Homo sapiens: one gene and its partner. The protein of the gene in region 1 purifies or fractionates together with the protein of each later gene. This does not show direct contact. Each region holds a gene or a part of one and is shown in the gene's direction. Other genes may lie near its edges.

Region 1 (3,697 bases):
TGTATCTCCATCAAAGACCAGTAAGCTAGCTGGCCCTTTCTGCAGAGTGCATTACGATGAGCTTCCCACTTTGCTTGCTTAGGTTTAGGAAGCCTGGAGATGCACTCTGCTTGGGTCTGGGCCCAGATGCCAATAGGAGCCATACTGTGAATGGCTTAAGAAGACTAGACTCACTGAACTTGGAAATAAACACTGTATCTGAATTGTGGTTAGTCCTTCCTCATTTGCTGATACAACCATGTCTGGCTTAATTTGGTGTTTATTCTGGTTTTTGGTAGAAGGAAGAATAACGGAGAAGGAGATAAGAGATCATATTTCAAAAGAGACTTTGTTCTATATTTGTGGCCCACCTCCAATGACAGACTTTTTCTCCAAGCAACTGGAAAACAACCATGTACCCAAAGAACACATTTGCTTTGAGAAGTGGTGGTAGGAGGCAGACAAAGGCAGAAAAAATAAAGAGGTGAGATCTACTCAGGAGAGCTCCTGTCCTTTGTGGCATGATTAATTTTTTTTATCTCTACTTGAGTTGTCTTATTTTTTAAGGCTATAAACTTAGTGACCAGCTGGATAATAAAAGCCAGCTGGCAGACTTAAATGATAAACTTTTTGCAAAGACCTCAGTGATCAAACTATTTTTTACTATACTGATTTTCTGTTATTAACAACGATTTAATTGTCTCATGATGTACCATGATTGGTCAGTATAGATTTTTCTTTTGTCTTTAGGCAAAAAAAAGATATATACTTATGTCTAATCATAGGAAAATGTGATTTTTGAGTATAAAATGTGGGCTAGCTTTAAATTATTTGACAGCCATCTATATATCTTATGTTTAATGAAAGTATAATTTAAATACAATCTTAATAATTTTACTTTGAAAATTCTTTTTATTTAATGCCTTTGTTTACTGTACCATGGCCTACAGTCTTATTTGGTCCATCAAAGTTAAGTTTGGACATGGAAAATTGTTAGGAAAACTGCTTTAGGGAGTTAAATATCCAGCATATTTGCTTTCTTGTTAATGAATATCCTAAGTGTGTATCCTGACTAATTGTTAGTTTCTTCTCAAATGAAACCCTTTCTGTGTCTTGGCTGTCTGCCTTAACGCTGTAGGAGGCAGCTTCTTGCTTGGGACAAAGGCATTGGTGATGTGTTCCATGTTGAATCTGCCTTCAGTGCCTGGGCTGGCTTGCTATGGAAATGTGCTTAGCATTGATTAGGGGGTAGAGAGCTGTTTCTAAATCCTGCTTTTCTACTTTTTATTTCACTCATTTGCCAGAATTGTTCTTGGCACCAGCAGCTCCTTAACATATAGTTGTTGAATGACTGAAAGAAAGCAACTAATGTTTTAACTCCTTGCTAAGTCTGAGATTGGGAGGCAGTCCCCTAGAGTGGATAGAAAGAATGGTGGAGCCTCATCCCAAAGCTGCTCTGATGAAACTGCTAGAAAGCAGATTGTAGTTCTTTGTTTAGATTTTTAAAAATCCAAAAGAAGTCCTGACTGAGGCCAGGCCATTCCTTTTATGACAAGTAGTCCTGGGCCCAAGGTTGCCTGCATAGAGATCACAGGAGGGTGAAGGGAGCCTGGGAAGAAGGACAGATAAGTGCTGGAGACCTAGGAGCTCCAGTTGAGATTCTGTTCTGGAGCGGATGAGAGAAGACAGGTTACCCTTTCTTATCTTTGTTGTTGCAGGCCTCCCAGGGACTTGTGGGCTTGAACAGATATGATTCATGGGACCTGAAGGTGACTCTAGCTTCTGCCCAGTTTTGAGTTTTGTCAAGTTTTAAGCAGAGATCATTTGTCAACTATTTTGATCCCAGATTTGAATTTGGGGAGGAAGGGAGGAGCTACTGACCTGATGGGAATATCATAATCCATTCAAGGAAATGGTCATTAGTACCTCAGAGGTGAAGGGAATATGTGAAGCTCTGGATCACTACAAGGAGCCCTGACTTACCAGTTGGCCCCAAAGTGCCCAGGCTGAGGGCATAGGAGCATGATGAGATGCAAGGATGTGGGATTATCAAGGGGCACGTCTACTAACTGGTGAAGGCAGTCTGCGGGGGAGGACACCTAAAGGTATGCGGAAAGTACCTAACCCAGACCTCTCTGCATTAGGAGTGGAGGTGCAAAGTGAGCATCTCCAGTGCAGCATGGGATGGGAAGATAGGGAGGTGTCGCCCACTGTCTCGGTTTAGCCAGCACCACGGCTGGCTGTGTGCCTGCTACTGTCAGAGAGCAAGGGTCATCTGTCCTGCCCAGCTATGCCTGCCACCCTGTTGCTGACTCAGTATTGGCAGAATTGCTGAGATGGGCCAGGTCATCACCTTTGCCTGGAGTGTTCATCCTTTCAGTGCCATTATTCTGGTGCTAAGTGCTGAAGAACATTTTCAGGTCTAGCCGAGAATGTCCTCTTGCTCTTGCCTGCCAGGCCTGTCCAGATCTTTTTGGTACTTAAATTGAGCTAACTCCAGCCAGAGTGGCTTGGAATTCATAGTGCGGTGGCTCAGAGTATAGGCTCGAAAGCCCTTGAGCCAGATTGCCTGGGTTCAGATCTCACCTATACTACTTACTAGGTAGATGACCTTGAGCAAGTCACTTAACTGCTCTATGCCTCATTTAAAATTACATACAACTACATGTAAAAGGGAGATGATACTGCTGCCTACCTACCTACATGATAGGGCTGTTACGGGGATTGAAGGTGATCATACATGTAAAGTGCTTGGCAGAGCACTGCATGAGTGTGTTGTCGTTATTAATTTGCTATTCCTTGTCCTATTCAGAAAGGATTTCAAGAGGCTGGATGCCTTAGATGTGGTCTAACTTGAAACCTTCATGTGGGTGTGCGTCTGTCTTGTTTATTGCTGTGCCAGGCACAAAATAGGTATTTCATAAATATTTGTTAATATGCTCAGAGTTGATAAGCTGGATTAAAGTGACTTCTTAAGGATCCTCTGGCTCTATGAGTTTGAAAAAATGTTTCTTCTTTTGACATAAGACCCTTTCCCAGCCTACTCAAGGGACTAGGTTAGTCTGATATTTGTATCTTTCTCAGATTTTATTTATATTTTTTCAAACATATGACAAAGTAGAGATAGTAAAATGACTTCTCGTGCATCCATCACCCGGCTTCCATGACTAGCAGCATTCTGTTTTTGTCAGCCCTCAGCTTCTTTGTGGGGGTGTTCTTCTTGCTGGTGTGTTTTCAAGCAAAGCCTAGCAATTGTATCGTGTCACTTCTAAATTCTTCAGTATATATTTCTAACAGATACATCACCTCAGCACAACCACAATGTCATCATCATACCTAACACAAGTGACAATGATTCCTTAATATCCTCTAAGACCCTTCTGTGTTGTTTCCTCATGGCCTCAAAAGTCCGAATATTGCATTAGGTTAATGTCTTTTATTTTAATTAATTAATGGCACACTCCTTACACCCCCTACACATATACATGGACACTTTTTTTCCCCCATGATTCATTTGTTAAAGAAACTGACTTATTTGTTCTGTAGGCTTTCCCACATTTTGAACCTGGCCTATTGTATCCTCAGGGTGTTGCTTGATCCTCTCTCCTCTGTATTTCATGTAAACTGGTAATTAGATTTAGAACTTGTTTATATTCGGATTCAAGATTTTTTTTTTGCAAGCCTGTATTATAAAGTGGTGTGCTTCCTGTGGCATCAC
Region 2 (3,821 bases), on another chromosome or scaffold:
GTCTTAAATTCCTGAGCTCAAGCAGTCCGCCCACCTAAAGTGCTGGGATTACAGGTATGAGCCACTGCATCCTGCCAAGGGGGCATAATTGACATTTATTCATAAAAATATTGAGACTTCAGGCCTGGCATGGTTTTTTGGGATTTTTGGTTGTTGTTTTTTTTTTGAGACAGAGTCTCACTCTGTCGCCCAGGCTGGAGTGCAGTGGAACATTCTCGGCTTACTGCAACCTTTGCCTTCCAGGTTCAAGCGATTTTTCTGCCTCAGCCTCCCTAGTAGCTGGGACTACAGGCAAATGCCACTACTCCTGGCTAATTTTTTTGTTTGTTTGTTTGAGACAGAGTCTTGCTCTGTCACCCAGGCTGGAGTGCAGTGGCATGATCTTGGCTCACTGCAAACTCCGCCTCCCGGGTTCATGCCATTCTCCTGCCTCAGCCTCCCGAGTAGCTGGGACTACAGGTGCCCGCCACCATGCCCGGCTAATTTTTTGTATTTTTAGTAGAGACAGGGTTTCACCATGTTAGCCAGGATGGTCTCGATCTCCTGACCTTGTGATCTTCCCACCTCAGCCTCCCAAAGTGCTGGGATTACAGGCGTGACCCACCACGCCCGGCCAATTTTTGTTTTTTTAATGGAGACGGGATTTTACTATGTTAGTCAGTCTGGTCTCAAACTCCTGAACTCCTGATCTCAAGTGATCCACTTGCTTTGGCCTCCAAAAGTGCTGGGATTACAGGCAAGAGCCACCACGCCCAGCCAACTATTTTTTGTTCTCTTGTTTTTTTGTTTTTAAGAGACAGGGTCTTGCTCTTGCAGTGGTACAATAACTCACTGCAGCCTTGAACTCCTGGGTTTAAGCAATCCTCCTGCCACTGTGCCCAGCCGAGGGGGCATAATTGACATTAAAAAATATTGAGTTTTCGGGCCCGTCATGGTGGCTCACGCCTGTAATCCCAGCACTTTGGGAGGCCAAGGTGGGTGGATCACTTGAGCTCAGAAGGTCAAGACCAGCCTGGGCAACATGGCAAAACCTTGTCTCTACAAAAAATACAGACGTTTTTTGTATTTGTGGTGGCACAGTGCACCTGTGGTCCCAGCTACTCAGGAGGCTGAGGTGAGAGGATTGCCTGAGCCTGGGAGGCAGAGGTTGCAGTGAGCTGAGATCATGCCAATGCACTCCAGCCTGGACGACAAGAGACCCCGTCTCAGTAAATAAATAATGCCTCCAATTCATTTATACATCTTTACAATGGAATTTCTGGCAACTTTGATAAAGTAATTCTAGTTCACCTGAAAGAATTGATATGTGAGAAAAGCCAATGAATTTTAGAGCAATCAAGGGAGAATTTATTAATACAGTATATAATAGGAAAAGACATTGGCAGTCTGGCCAATGGAACAAAATACAATAGCCCCAACCATTCATAGAAATTTAATTTTTGATAAATAGAGCATTTCAGAGGAAAAGGATTCTGTCAGTAAATGGTGTGTTAAGAAGGCTGGGTGTGGTGCCTCATGCCTGTAATCCCAGCACTTTGGAAGGCCAAGGCGGAAGGATCACTTGAGCTCAGGGGTTTGAGACCAGCCTGGGCAACACAGCAAGACTTCCTCTCTACTAAAATAAAAATTTAAAAAATTAGCTGGGTATGGTGGTGCACAGTCATAGTCCCAGGTACTTGGGAGGCTGAGGCGGGAAGATCACTTGAGCTCAAGAGTTTGAAGCTGCAGGGAGCCATAATTGAGCCACTGTACACCAGCCTGGACAACAGAGTGAGACCTTATCTAAAAAAAAAAAAAAAAGACTGAGAAAAGAACAAGTGGCCAAGATACACAAAAAAATGTTCAATCACTAGTAATTAATGTAAATTAAAACTACTAGACATTGCCAGGCACAGTGGCTCACACCTGTAATCTCAGCACTTTGGGAGTCTGAGGCAGGTGGATCACGAAGTCAGGAGATCGAGACCATCCTGGCTAACACAGTGAAACCCTGTCTCTACTAAAAATACAAAAAATTAGCCTGGCGTGGTGGCACACACCGGTAGTCCCAGCTACTCGGGAGGCTGAGGCAGGAGAATCACTTGAACCTGGGAGGTGGAGGTTGCAGTGAGCCAAGATCCCACCACTGCACTCCAGCCTGGGCAACAGAGCAAGACTCCGTCTCAAAGAAACAACAACTACTAGACATAACTAAATTGACATAAAAATGATATAGGACGGATGAAGGAAAAGAGGCATCATTCCATCAAAACTGTTGTTGGGAGTACAAATTGATGTAATATAGGACCCTTCTGGAGATCAGTTTGGCAGTGGGTATCAGATTTCTTAGAAATATGTATGCCTTTTGATACAAAATACCATTTGGTGAAATCTACCCTAAGGACTGACGGAGGTACACAAAAATCTTGCAACAAGGCTATTCATTACATCATTCTTACAGCCAACAACAACAAAAGGAAATCCAAATGTTCATTTGAGCTATGTAAACTTAAAATTATTATTTTTTCTTTTTCAAGAGATAGGGTCCTGCTTATGTTGCCCAGGCCACAGTACAGTGGCTATTCATAGACGTGATAATAACACACTCCCGGGCTCAAGCAAGCCTCCCGCCTTAGCCTCCCAAGTAGCCGGGACTACCAGTGTGTGTCACTGCCCCCAGCTAAATTATTGTATTTTTGTAAAAGAAGTACTATTAAGTCATTTTAAAAGTTGGATAAAGCCGGGCGCAGTGGCTCACGCCTGTAATCCCAGCACTTTGGGAGGCTGAGCCAGGTGGATTGCCTGAAGTCAGGAGTTCGAGACTAGCCTGGCCAACATGGTGAAACCCTGTCTCCACTAAAAATAAAAAAATTAGCTGGGTGTGGTGGCAGGCGCCTGTAATCCCAGCTACTAGGGAGGCTAGGGCAGGAGAATCGCTTGAACCTGGGAGGCAGAGGTTGCAGTGAGCTGAGATGGCGCCACCGCACTCCAGCCTGGCGGCAGAGCAAGACTCTCTCAAAAAAAAAAAAAAAGTTGGATAAATGGGCCGGGCGTGGTGGCTCACGCCTGTAATACCAGCACTTTGGGAGGCCGAGGCGGGCGGATCACCTAAGATCAGGAGTTCAAGACCAGCCTGGCCAACATGGTGAAACCCCGCCTCTACGAAAAATATAAAAATTAGCTGGGTGTGGTGGTGGGCGCCTGTAATGCCAGCAACTCAGGAGGTTGAGGCAGGAGAATTGCTTGAACCCAGGAGGCAGAGGTTGCAGTGAGCCACAGTCATGCCACTGCACTTCAGTCTGGGTGACAGTGAAACTCCATCTCAAAAAAACAACAAAAAAAAAATGTTGATAAATGTACTCACCTATGAGATTCATTGATATTCATAATACTGTCTGACAAAAAAAGAAGTTACCAAACCTACCAAAGAGTTTTGTCTGCATATGTAGTTGGGCCTGGAAAGGTAAACCACTGGATAGCAACTGTCTTTAGGTAGGAAGGTTTCGTGGCTATTTTCATGTTCTTTTTGTATCTCTGTATTTTCAGATTAACTCAGTTTTCTAATGAATATAGATTCTTTTGTAATAAGGAAAAATAGAGAAACTTCATATTTAACTGCTACAATAGACACAGTGGAAAGTGGAAGCTTAATGTAGTTATTGAAAATTATGAAAATTGTAAAGAAACTGAGTCAAATGTAGGAGCAAATAAAATGTTTGCTTTAACTGTTACATAATGTATATTGAGAATGCAGAAGGAGCCGGGCGCAGTGACTCACGCCTATAATCCCAGCACTTTGGGAGTCTGAGGCAGGCGGATCACCTGAGGTCGGGAGTTCGAGA

What was found.
Region 2: the proteins of OXNAD1 (region 1) and SRR purify together in Homo sapiens (affinity purification with mass spectrometry; 2 studies listed by BioGRID and IntAct, with this or other methods). This does not show direct contact.

What each region holds. Positions count from the first base shown.
Region 1 is NC_000003.12:16,303,130-16,306,826, forward strand, and holds the end of OXNAD1 (oxidoreductase NAD-binding domain-containing protein 1 isoform 2 precursor), read left to right. Parts: intron 1-278; coding exon 279-433; 3' UTR 434-2,958; downstream 2,959-3,697.
Region 2 is NC_000017.11:2,310,431-2,314,251, forward strand, and holds part of SRR (serine racemase), read left to right. Parts: intron 1-3,821. UniProt on the Homo sapiens protein: Catalyzes the synthesis of D-serine from L-serine. D-serine is a key coagonist with glutamate at NMDA receptors. Has dehydratase activity towards both L-serine and D-serine.